2 separate regions of the Homo sapiens genome follow, and region 1 is linked to region 2. Evidence: fine-mapped expression QTL. Tissue or cell type: whole blood. Region 2 holds a variant in brackets; the other region holds the start of a gene. All regions are shown on one strand. Distances are between the middles of the regions.

Region 1 (5,372 bases), 33 kb before region 2:
TGTAGGAAAGGAAAAGAAAACTCAGTGGATTGGTAGATAGGTGAATGCAGGTATTTAGATGGATGGATAGATGGATGATGAACAGGATGGAAAAGAAGGGAGAAGGTAAAGAAGGAGAAAAAATGGGGGGAAAAATCTGAGTTCCCCTGCCTCATGGGGTCTAGGACCATAGGGGTAAAGGCAAAAGAAACTACAGCCCCAGTGCTCCCCCAAACAACATGTCCTGATATTGGCAAGGGCCCCTCAAAGCAGAATCACTTTATTCATCATCAACAATGGTCAGTGCCTACTACATGCCAGGCACCAGCAGGGCTCCAAGACACTGTAGCTTCAGAGCCAGACTGCCAGATGTGACCTTGGACATGAGTTTTGAATGTTTTTCAAACATGAGTTTTGGACATGAGGACTGGATGGGCACATAACATGTACCAACACACAACAGCCACTGCTACTCTTTATATTAAAAGTTATAGGCCAGGTGTGGAGGTTGATGTCTGTAATCCCAACAGTTTGGGAGGCCAAGGCGGGAGGATTACTTGAGCCCAGGACTTTGAGACCAGCCTGAGTAACATGGCGAAACCCCATCTCTACAACAAATTAAACAATAAGCCAGGCGTGGTGGCACGTACCTGTGATCCCAGCTACTCAGAAGGCTGAGGCGAGAGGATCGTTTGAGCCTTGGGAGGTTGAGGCTGCAGTGAGCCGAGATCTCGCCACTGCACTCCAGCCTGGGCAAAGAGTGAGACTCTGTCTCAAAAATAAATAAATAAATAAATAAAAATTTAAAACACCCAGGAGGGAGTTGGAATGAGCCAAGTCGTCAGTTCCACCTGAGTTAGAGTGGGCAGCTCTCAGGGTTCTTGTGTGGGTGGTTCGTCTTGCCACCTGTCCCCTCTACCCTCAGCCTTCCAGGATATCTTCAAACTCTTCAGCTCCAGCCCAACAGGCACCGTGGACATGCACAGCATGAAAGTTGCCCTGGGCAATGTGGGTATCCAGCTGAGTCCACAGGAGACGTTCGAGGCTCTGCGGCAGGCAGACTTGGATGGTGGGTGCCCCAACCCTGTCTTCTTGTCCCCTCCCACCTCCAGGCATTCTTTTAAAGAATGCCTCCCCTTCCCACAAAATCCTGGCCTGGTCCTATTTTAAAGTTCCCTCTTCCAGGAAGCCTGCCCTGACCAACACACCTATCTCATGGCCTGTAAACGTTGCTGCTGTGTTCATCCTAATCCTGATTTGGGAACCCCCAAGGCATGGGCCGTTTCTCCCCCATTGAAACTGGGGTCTGCCCTTGGCTAGAGGCAGGACTAGATTCTCTAACACCTGGAACTGCCAGCAGGCATGTGCAAGGCAGGCCTTCTGCAGGGGGCAGGCACCCACAGCACCCCCTCTCCTCTCTCCCCAGGTGATGGAATCGTAAGCTTCATTGACTTCCTGGGTGTCTTCGATGACAACCACCGCTTGGCTCAGTGCATGGGTGAGGGGCAAGGCTGGTGGAGGAGGGGTGGGCCTGGCTTAGGGGGTGCCCCCTCCTCACCCTCCTTCACCTTTTTTGCCCCCAAGCCGGGTGAGGAACAGCCAGCTCTGTACCCCCAGGGACTGCAGACCCTGTTCTTGGAAATGCTGTTCAAGCTGCTGGGCCGGGGCTTTGTGCCCTCCAAGTTGGCACGGGGGGTGATGAGGTGGGCACAACCATACCAGCTCCTGGGCCCACAATGGGAGGAGCAAACCCTGCCCCCCGCAGGGACCCCTGATATTCCTGCCCTAGAGACGGGAGCCCTGAATTCTGAGTCTGTTTCCTGGGCCCCAAGTCGCCCCAGGACAAAGACAAAGCAGCGGCTTCCGGCCCTGCTTTGGCTTCCGCACCTGTGAGACAGAGAGGGCTGGGAGTGTCTGAGGCGGCCGCCCCGCCTCTCTTCTCCAAGCTACTACTTCAAGAAGCAGCGGGCTCTGCGGCTCAGCCCAGGCTGCGGGGGTTGGGGGGCGCTCCCACGCGGGGCTCGCCTTCTGCCACGCGGCGCGCATCAGCGACCTCTCCAACTAGGAGCTGGCGCGCTCGCTGCACAAACTGCACGAAGTAGGTGCGTCCCCGACGGGGCGGGGGGCGCCGGGACCCGCGGGAGGGACCTCTCCCGGCCACTTACAACCCCCGCCCTCGCCTCCGACCCCCAGGACCCGTTCTGAGGACCGTCTCCTCCTCCACCTCCTCCCAGGCACCCGCCCCAGGTGCGCGCAGCCCGTACTCTCAGATTCCTAACCTGGAGGGGTTGGCGCTCCCGGAACGCAGGACACGAAGCCCAGCCCCGGGCCCCGGCTTCCGCCTGATCCAGCCCTACTAGCCCGGCCGCCCCAAGATCCCGCCCAGCCCGGGGCGTGTCTCGGCCTAGGTGAGAGCCGGCGGGCGGGGGAGGGACACGCAGTGAGGGGCGGGACAAGTGCCCGGAGGACAGACAGATGGGGCGACACTGGCTGGTGGAGGGGAGGGGCAGGCGAGGAGCGGGGGCAGGCCCGGAAGAAATGGGGACCCGGCAGGCGGTGACGGAGGCGGCACGCGCGGAGATGTAAGGCGAGGTCACTTATGGCGTCACTAAGTACTGGGTAGGGCGAAAGGAAAAGGGGCCAGATGCCCGGGTGGGAGGCAGGACTGGCGCAAATGGGGCGGGGCAGCCGGAAGGAGAACTGCTGCGGGGCTGGCCCGGCGTGTCTAACCCCAGCTGCCCGCTCGCCCCCTCCGGCCTCCCGCAGGGATACTGGGCCAGCCACGAAAGCCTCCGCCCCCTCGAAGCGGGCTCCCTCGCCGCCAACTCTAGTGAAGAAGCAGCCCTTCTCCCCGGCGCCCGCTGGTTTGCAGAGGCCTGCTATGAAGAGCTTGTGCAAGTAAAGCGTTTGCTGAGCGGAAACAGGCTGCGGGTGGCTGCGGCAGGCATGGAGCCGACGCGGATCTTTTGCAAACATCTTTATTAATCTCATATAAAAATAAGGTCCATGGACGGTCCTCGGGGCTGGGGCTTGCGGGGGCGAGGTGCACTTTATAAGTTACAGGCCAGGCTCCTGCTGAGGCTAAGTATGGCTATTTGGAGGGGGCTTTAGGGTGGGTGCTGCAAGCAGCATTTGGGGGAAGGGGCGGGCGATGCTGCCCTCTGTGGCCAAGAGGAGGATGCACCAGCCCGTTTGAGGCGGGCCACAGCGGAGGAGGGGCTGCCCGGCCAGCCGAGCTGAGGACCACCTTCCTTGAGCCTCAGCCTGTCCACGGCCCCACACCCCTGCAGAATCCACCTGCAGAAATAGCGGCTACAGCGAGAGGTCGGAGGTGACCTGCAGTGGGGGGCCCGGGGGACGCCGACGGGCACTGCGGCGGCCTGTGTCTGCGCGGATGTAGGGCTGGTTCCGCAGATCTGGCAGCCGAAGGAGACACATTTACCATTCAGGAGTCCGCCCAGAGCTGGGAGCATGGCTCCAGGGCACAAAGCTTAGCCTCCTAAGGACTCAGATTGTGTGCACATGGCAGGGGTACCGTTTATGTTTGCCAGACCCCTCCACCCCACAAATCACATCCCAGCCATCCACTGGCCCAGGAGAAGGCAGCATGCCTCAGTTCTCCCAAGGGTCCCAGGGGCTGTGGGCAGCGTGGTATCAGAGGCCAGGTCATCTGGGTACCTGAGGGGCTAGAGGGGCATCTCTTCTCCCAGGCTGGCCTCACAGAGGAGCCGGGATGTCCGCTTGCCGGTGCGGGCCGTGAAGGGCACCGTCTTGATCACTGAGTGGGGGTGGGGCAGGTGAAGGGGAGTAGAGAAAGGAAAAAGGAAAGAAAAACAGAAAAGGTAGCAAGAAGCAGTGTGGCAGCCAGTCCCCCAGAGGATAGCGCATTGGGTCAGAAGAAAGCATAGAAGGACAGACTGAGGATAAGACCAAGGCCTGGCCAAGCCCTTACCTGTGATGATGTCTTCAATGGCCCCATCACGGTCGCTCTCATAAATGAGTGGCTCCTTCTGCTGCCTCCGTTTCAGCTCAGAGATGAGGTCCATCTGTGGCCGCCGGGCCTTTGGCGGTGACTAGGGGGAATTTATAGCTCCAGCTCCAGGATGCCTCCCCATCACCAAAACCCTGGAATATCTGCCTGGTCCCCCACAGCAAGGACAGCTGGCTTGAGCAGAAAGAACCCTTTCCCATCCCAGGCTCCTGGGGCAGGGTCAGTCTGTAACAGTGAGGGTGTGGGGGTGGCACCAGAGGGTGATGAGATGCCATGCATCCCTGCAGCCCAGTACCAAGCCCAGGAGCAGTTGCCTACCTTGGGTGCTGGGGGCTCCCCTTTGCCCGGGGTATCAGCGCCTGCCTCCTGGGCAGCGGCTTCTTTTTTCCACTGTTCCACCTCCTGCTCAGCTTTCTGTGGGCCAAGGCAGTCTCCATGAGGGTGGCCCTCCCTACTGCCCTACCCACCCCCTAAACAGAAGCAGCCCCACCCCTCCGCTGCCCAGTAGAAAGGCTTCAGTGCCCTACAGGGCTCCCAGCCTGCCCCAGACCCGAATACCTTGTAGGCCTTAATGAAGCGGCTAAAGAGGGAGAAGAACAGGCCTGGGGATGTGGTCTTGGGGTTCTCTCCGAAGTACTCCACCACAGACTCAAAGGCCTCCTGTGGGCACAGCCTGTCAGCCCCCCAGCTTAGACCTCTCACAGCCTGTACCCCTCAGGACACTGGCCACCTGATCTGAGCTCCTCCCAGGCAGGGTGGCCCCTCATTCCTGCTGCATCCCCCCAAGGGGTCCCAGCTACGGCCACACCCCTCCAGGCTGTGCTATCTAGTGCTCCTACATGCCCCACCTCCAGGTGAGGCCAGCCCTGGCGCACCTGAGCCGTCTTGCTGTCTGCCAGCAGCTTGTCCATGGTGGGCGAGTTGGCCCTCAGGAACTCCTTGAGCACCATGCAGTCATCCTGCCGCACAAACTCTCTCTGTGTCAACTCTAGGCCTCGCTGCAGGGAGCGCACGTCCGCCAGGACACTGTCCAGGGACACTGGGCCAGGGATGGGGCAGTATCAGGTCAGTGAATCGGAGAGGCAGCCCTCCCACCAATTATATACTGTGGCCCCCTAGCTTTCTCCCAACCTACCCCAGCCCACGGCCCCTCCCCACACCCAAGGATCTGTGTGTCTCCTACCTGAGCCCGCCTTGTCCAGGAAGTGCAGGTCGCTGTGGAAGCCTGTGAGTTGCGGGTACTTCTCAGCAATGACCTTCACCAGGTAGTGCAGCAGCGTCTGCTTGCGATCAGTCGACTTCATCTCCAACAGCTGCACAAGGACCCATTGTAAGCCACAGGCCACCAGCCAGTCCCCAGCCCCAGTCCCCAAGCCAGGGGCCCCTCCTCACCGCATCCAGG
Region 2 (5,923 bases):
AATCAGCCTCCCTGTTGCCCTGTTTCCCATTCCCTCCCCAGAGGCAACCACTCTTAACAGTTTTTTTGTTTTTGTTTTTGTTTTTTTTTAGACAGAGTCTCACTCTGTTGCCCAGGCGGCTGGAGTGCAGTGGTGTGATCTCAGCTCACTGCGACCTCCGCTTCCCAGATTCAAGCAATTCTCCTGCCTCAGCCTCCTGAGTAGCTGGGACTACAGGTGTGTGCCACCACGTTCAGCTAATTTTTGTATTTTTAGTAGAGACGGGGTTTCACCATGTTGGCCAGGCTGGTCTTGAACTCCTGACCTCAAGTGATCCACCCGCCTTGGCCTCCCAAAGTGCTGGGATTACAGGTGTGAGCCACCGCGCCTGGCCTCTTAACAGTTCTAATGTATCTTTGCAGAGCTATTTGGAGCATATGCTGTGTATATGTGCGTGTGTGTGTGACACAAATGATAGCACACGCTCTACACTGTTCAGCACCTGCTATTTTCATGTCATAATATACCTGCCTGTAGATAGTCAACATAGTTTTCCATCGTATGGTGTGTCACAATTTATTTACCATTCCCCTCCTAGTGGATATTTATGTATGTCCGCCTTTTATTACTACAAACAATGCTAATTACAGGAAATATCTTGGTACATATATTTGCAGACATATGTGTGTGTGTGAAATAAATTTATAAGTATGGCAATTCTGGGTCAAAGATTATGTGCTCTTAAATGTTTTATAGGTTTTCACAGAATTGCCCTCCAAAAATTTTGTACCAATTTACAATCCCCAACAACGGATGAGATCACCTGTTTCCCCAAATCCTCACAAACAGGTTAATATCAGGCCTTTTGATCTTAGGTGATGACTCTTTAAAAGTCCTGCTCACAGAGCAGTTGATGATCTGTCTTTTTCTTTGGGCCGCGGGTTTCTCCAAGGAAGGGACTGTGTCTTTCTCATACCTACATCCCCAGTGAAGGACTTGACACCATCCTTGGGAGTTACTCAAGAAGTGTCTGCTAAATATTGAGTGAAAGAAACAGAGCTGCATTTTGGCAGGCTGGGAGGGAGAGGGTAAAAGGTTAGGTTTGAACAGGAGGCCTGCTTTTTTTTTTTTTTTTTGAGATGGAGTCTCACTCTGTTGCCCAGGCTGGAGTGCAGTGGCGCGATCTCAGCTCACTGCAACCTCCAAGGAGGACTGCTCTTTAGGGCCACTTTCTCTTCCAGACCCTGGTCAAGCCTCTGCCCCAAATCCAAAAGCCTTCCTCTTGCAGGAGCCTCCCAGGTTGCAAGGTCTGAGGTTGAAGGCCCAGAACTCCCAGTGCAGCTTTCACCCAGCTCTGCTGCATTCCAGGGATGGGCCCCATCATCCCCAAGCTGCCTGAGAACTGGAAACAAACTAGGTGTCCAGCTTTAGGGGATCAGTTAAACCACTGTCCTATAGAACTTTCTGCAATGATGAAAATGTTCTCTATCTGCCCTGTCCAATATGGCAGCCACTGGCCACTCGTAGCTACCGAGTATTCAAGCTGTAGCTAGTTCAACTAAGGAAATAAATAAATGTTACTTAATTTTAATTAATTTCCATTTAAGTAGCCATGTGTGGCTACATATTGGACAGTGAAGGGTTCAGTAAATTATGATATAGCCCCACAATGGAAAACTATGCAGCTGTAAAAAAAAAAAATAATAAGGATGCCAAGAAAAATGGAAAGATCTTCAGGATATATTTTGAAACAAAAATGTGGTACAGGCTGTGTGCAGTGGCTCACGCCAATAATCCCAGCACTTTGGGAGGCCAAGGTGAGAGGCCGAGGCAGGAGGATCACTTGAGTCCAGGGGTTCAAGACCAGCCTGGTCAACATAATGAGACTTCCGTCTCTACAGAAAGTGAAAAAAAAAAAAAAGACAGCATGGTGGTATATGAATGTAGTCCCATCTACTCAGGAAGCTGAGGTGGGAGGATTGCTTGAGCCAGGGAAGTTGAGGCTGCAGTAAGCTGTGATTGTGCCACCACACTCCAGCCTGTGTGACAGAGCAAGACCCCATCTAAAAAAAAAAAAAAAGGCCAGGCACGATGGCTCACACATGTAATCCCAGCACTTTGGGAGGCCGAGGACCGTGGATCACCTGAGGTTGGGAGCTCAAGACCAGCCTGACCAACATAGAGAAACCTCATCTCTACTAAAAACACAAAATTAGCTGGGTGTGGTGGCACATGCCTATAATCCCAGCTACTCAGAAGACTGAGGCAGAAGAACCACTTGAACCCAGGAGGCGGAGGTTGCGGTGAGCCAAGATAGTGCCATTGCACTTCAGCCTGGGTAACAAGAGCGAAACTCTGTCTCAAAAAAAAAAATGTGGTTCAGAACAGTATACATAGTATGTCATCTTTTTTGAAAGAAAGGCAGGTAGGCCGGGCGCAGTGGCTCACACCTGTAATCCCAGCACTTTGGGAGGCCGAGGTGGGCGGATCACGAGGTCAGGAGATTGAGACCATCCTGGCTAACGCGGTGAAACCCTGTCTCTACTAAAAATACAAAAAATTAGCCGGGCGTAGGTGGTGCACTCCTGTAGTCCCAGCTACTCGGGAGGCTGAGGCAGGAGAATGGCGTAAAACCC[G/C]GGAGGCTGAGCTTGCAGTGAGCCAAGATCGCGCCACTGTACTTCAGCCTGGGAGACAGAGCGAGATTCCGTCTCAAAAAATAAAAAAAAAAGAAAAAGAAAGGCAGGTAGAGGAGGCTGGATGTGGTGGCTCATGCCTGTAATACCAGCACTTTGGGAGGCCAAGGGGGACAGATCACTTGCAGAAATGTGAGACCGGCCTGGACAACATGGTGAAACCCCATCTCTACACAAAATACAAAAATTAGTTGGACGTGGTAGTGCGCACCTGTAGTCCCAGCTACTCAGGAGGCTAAAGTGGGAGGGTTGCTTGAGCTGGGGAAGTCAAGGCTGCAGTGAGCCAAGATTGCACCACTGCACTCCAGCAGGGGTGACAGAGGGAGACAGCAGGAGTGACAGAGTGAGACCCTGTCTCAAAAAAAAAAAGAAAAGAGCTTTGCACAGTGGTAGTATCGTAGCCAATGAATGAAAGGGAGGTGGAAATAAAAATAAATGTTTATATTTGCTTGAATTTGCATAGGGAAAGCAATAACAGTGGGTGACCTATAGGGAGCTGGGGAATCCTGTTGCGGGGGTAGGCAAGGACAGGGTGGGAACAGAGCTTTCCAGTGAATTTCTTTATATTTCATTTTGGTTGTTGAAACATGTACATATATTACCTATTCAAAAAGTTAAATTAAGGTCAGGTGCAGTGGCTCATGCCCGTAATCCCAGTACTTTGGGAGGTTGAGGTAGGAGGATCACTTTACCCCAGGAGTTGGAGACCAGCCTGGGCAATATAGTGAGACCTCCTTTCTACAAAAAGTTTACAAATTAGCCATAAGCCAGGTGCGGTGGCTCACACCTGTAATCCCAGCACTTTGGGAGGCGGAGGCAGGCAGATCACTTGAGGTCAGGAGTCCGAGACCAGCCTGGCCAACATGGTGAAACCTCATCTCTACTAAAAATACAAAAATTAGCTGGGAATGGCAGCAGGTGCCTATAATCCCAACTACTTGGGAGGCTGAGACAGGAGAATCGCTTGAGCCCGGGAGGCAGAGGCTACAGTGAGTCAAGATCACGCCACTACACTACACTCCAGCCTGGGCAACAGAGCAAGACTCCGTCTCAAAAAAAAAAAAATTAGCCATATACGGTGACACGCTCCTGTAGTCCCAGATACTTGGGAGGCTGAGATGGGAAAGTCACTTGAGCCAGGGAAGTTGAGGCTGCAGAGAGCCAAGATCGCGCCACTGCTCTCCTGCCTGTGCGACACAGTGAGACTATGTCTCAAAAAAATGAAAAGGTGGCTGGGCACAAGGCTCACACCTGTAATCCCAGCACTTTGGGAGACTGAGGCAGGCAGATCACTTGAGGCCATGAGTTCGAGACCAGACTGGCTAACATGGTAAAACCCCATCTCTACTAAAAATACAAAAATTATCTGGGTGTGGCAGTGTGTGCCTGTAGTCCCAGCTACTAGAGAGGCTGAGGCAGAAGAATCACTTGAACCCGGGAGGCAGAGGTTGCAGCGAGCCGAAATTGTACTACTGCACTCCAGCCTGGGTGGCAAAGCGAGACTCCCTCTCAAAAAAAAAAAAAGTAAATTAAAATTAAAGCAAATTGCTTGCTATTTAACCACGAGGGCTGCTCTCTCCCTCTTCTTGGCAACTCGTGATAGTCACTACGTTATCCTTTCTTTTTTTTTTTTTTTTTTTTGAGACAAAGCCTTGTTCTGTCGCCCAGACTGGAGTGCAGTGGTGTGATCTCAGCTCACTGCAACCTCCGCCTCCTGGGTTAAAGCAATTCTTCTGCCTCAGCCTCCTGAGTAGCTGGGATTACAGGTGCATGCCACCATGCCCGGCTAATTTTTGTATTTTTTTAGTAGAGACGGGGTTTCACCATATTGGCCAGGCTGGTCTCGAACTCCTGACCTTGTGATCCGCCCACCTCGGCCTCCCAAAGTGCTGGGATTACAGGTGTGAGCCACTGCACCCAACCCAACGCTATCCTTTCTATGTAACTCACTAGAGGACAGCCCCAGGGAGTGGACCAGCAAAGACCGCATGAGCCATACCCCAGTGACACAGGCTCCCAAACCCGGCCATGTATCACAATCAGAATCTGGGGGGAGTACGGTCAGGGATCTGTGTCTTTTAAAGTCCTCCAGGTAATTCAGTCAGTTACTGACCTGTCCTTGTCAATGCTTCCCAGTGAAGAGAGTACAGGCTACATGTCCCAGGTACATATCCCTTCCCTTTAGACAGCAGTCATCACTGACGTCTTCTGAGTACCAGTGCTGTGCCAGACACTGAGGCATTCTACGTGTTACTGTAAGGCAAACAGCATCCCGGCAGGGCAGGCCTCGCCAATGTGCTCACTGAGCTCGGTGTCCTCTGGAGTGACTGACTTATTCAATGTCATATTGCTGGTAAATGTCAGAACTAGGATCTGAATGCAGTCATAAACTCCCTGAGCCTCTGTTTTCTTCTCTGAAAAAAAAAAAAAATGGTGACATGATTTTATTGAATTGTTTTGAATGTTCAATACAATTTTATGTAAAGCACTTAGCAGAGACTTTTATTTCCAGCAATAAGGTGGACTATATATGTTCAGAAAAACTCTTGTGTACAAAACAGCTAGAAATGCTAGATAAAAAATTTAAAAAAAATGTATATGGGTCTCCTTCCTTCCTTCCTTTCCTTCTTTCCTTCTTTGCTTCTTTGCTTCCTTCCTTCCCTCCCTCTCTCCCTCTCCTTCCTTCTCTCTTTCTCTCTCTTTCTTTCTCTCTCTTTCTCTCTTCCTCTCTTTCTCTCTCTCTCTGTTTCTCTGTTTCTCTCTTTCTTTCTCTTGCTGTGTTGCCCAGGCTGGAGTGCAGTGTTGTGATCTTGGCTCACTGCAGCCTCCACCTCCTGGCTTCAAGCAATTCTCTTGCTTCAGCCTCTTGAGCCTTGAGTAGCTGGGACTACAGGTGTGCATCACCATCCCTGGCTAATTTTTATATTTTTAGTACAGACGGGGTTTCACCATGTTGGCCAGGCTGGTCTCAAACTCCTGACCTCAACTGATCCACCCACCTCGGCCTCCCAAAGTGTTGGGATTACAGGCGTGAGCCACTGCGCCCAGACATGTGTGTTATTTTCAATGCAAGGCTAAGCCAGCAAGAAAACAAGACTCCACAAAGGCACAAATCCAGAAAGGAACAAGACAAAGCCTGGGGTCTCATAAAGAGGAGGAAATTAAATCAGAGATAACGTACCCTTCAAAAAAGTCAAGAGTGAACCAGGCGTGGTGGCTCAAGCCTGTAATTCCAGCACTTTGAGAGGCTG

Evidence for each region. PIP is the estimated chance that this variant, and not a neighbour inherited with it, causes the effect.
Region 1: it holds the start of MAP3K14-AS1, and the variant in region 2 is fine-mapped to the expression of MAP3K14-AS1 in whole blood (TOPMed, PIP above 0.99).

Annotation. Positions count from the first base shown.
Region 1 is chr17:45,244,890-45,250,261 of GRCh38, reverse strand. MAP3K14-AS1 (MAP3K14 antisense RNA 1) reads right to left here and starts at 2,337. Exons shown (of 4, transcript NR_110326.1): 1 at 2,259-2,337. It overlaps FMNL1 (formin like 1), which reads right to left. Exons shown (of 27, transcript NM_005892.4): 20 at 5,363-5,372; 21 at 5,154-5,283; 22 at 4,846-5,009; 23 at 4,529-4,630; 24 at 4,289-4,384; 25 at 3,932-4,052; 26 at 3,658-3,757; 27 at 2,944-3,395. The coding sequence ends at 3,666. It also overlaps the pseudogene EFCAB15P. RefSeq lists enhancers at 1,490-1,539, 2,790-2,859 and silencers at 1,950-2,679, 4,614-4,784.
Region 2 is chr17:45,211,572-45,217,494 of GRCh38, reverse strand. The region is part of intron 2 of FMNL1-DT (FMNL1 divergent transcript); the gene reads left to right. Among named protein-coding and RNA genes, the nearest start is that of FMNL1-DT, 7.2 kb to the left of the region's middle. The variant G/C (reference allele first, on the strand shown) is at 2,616.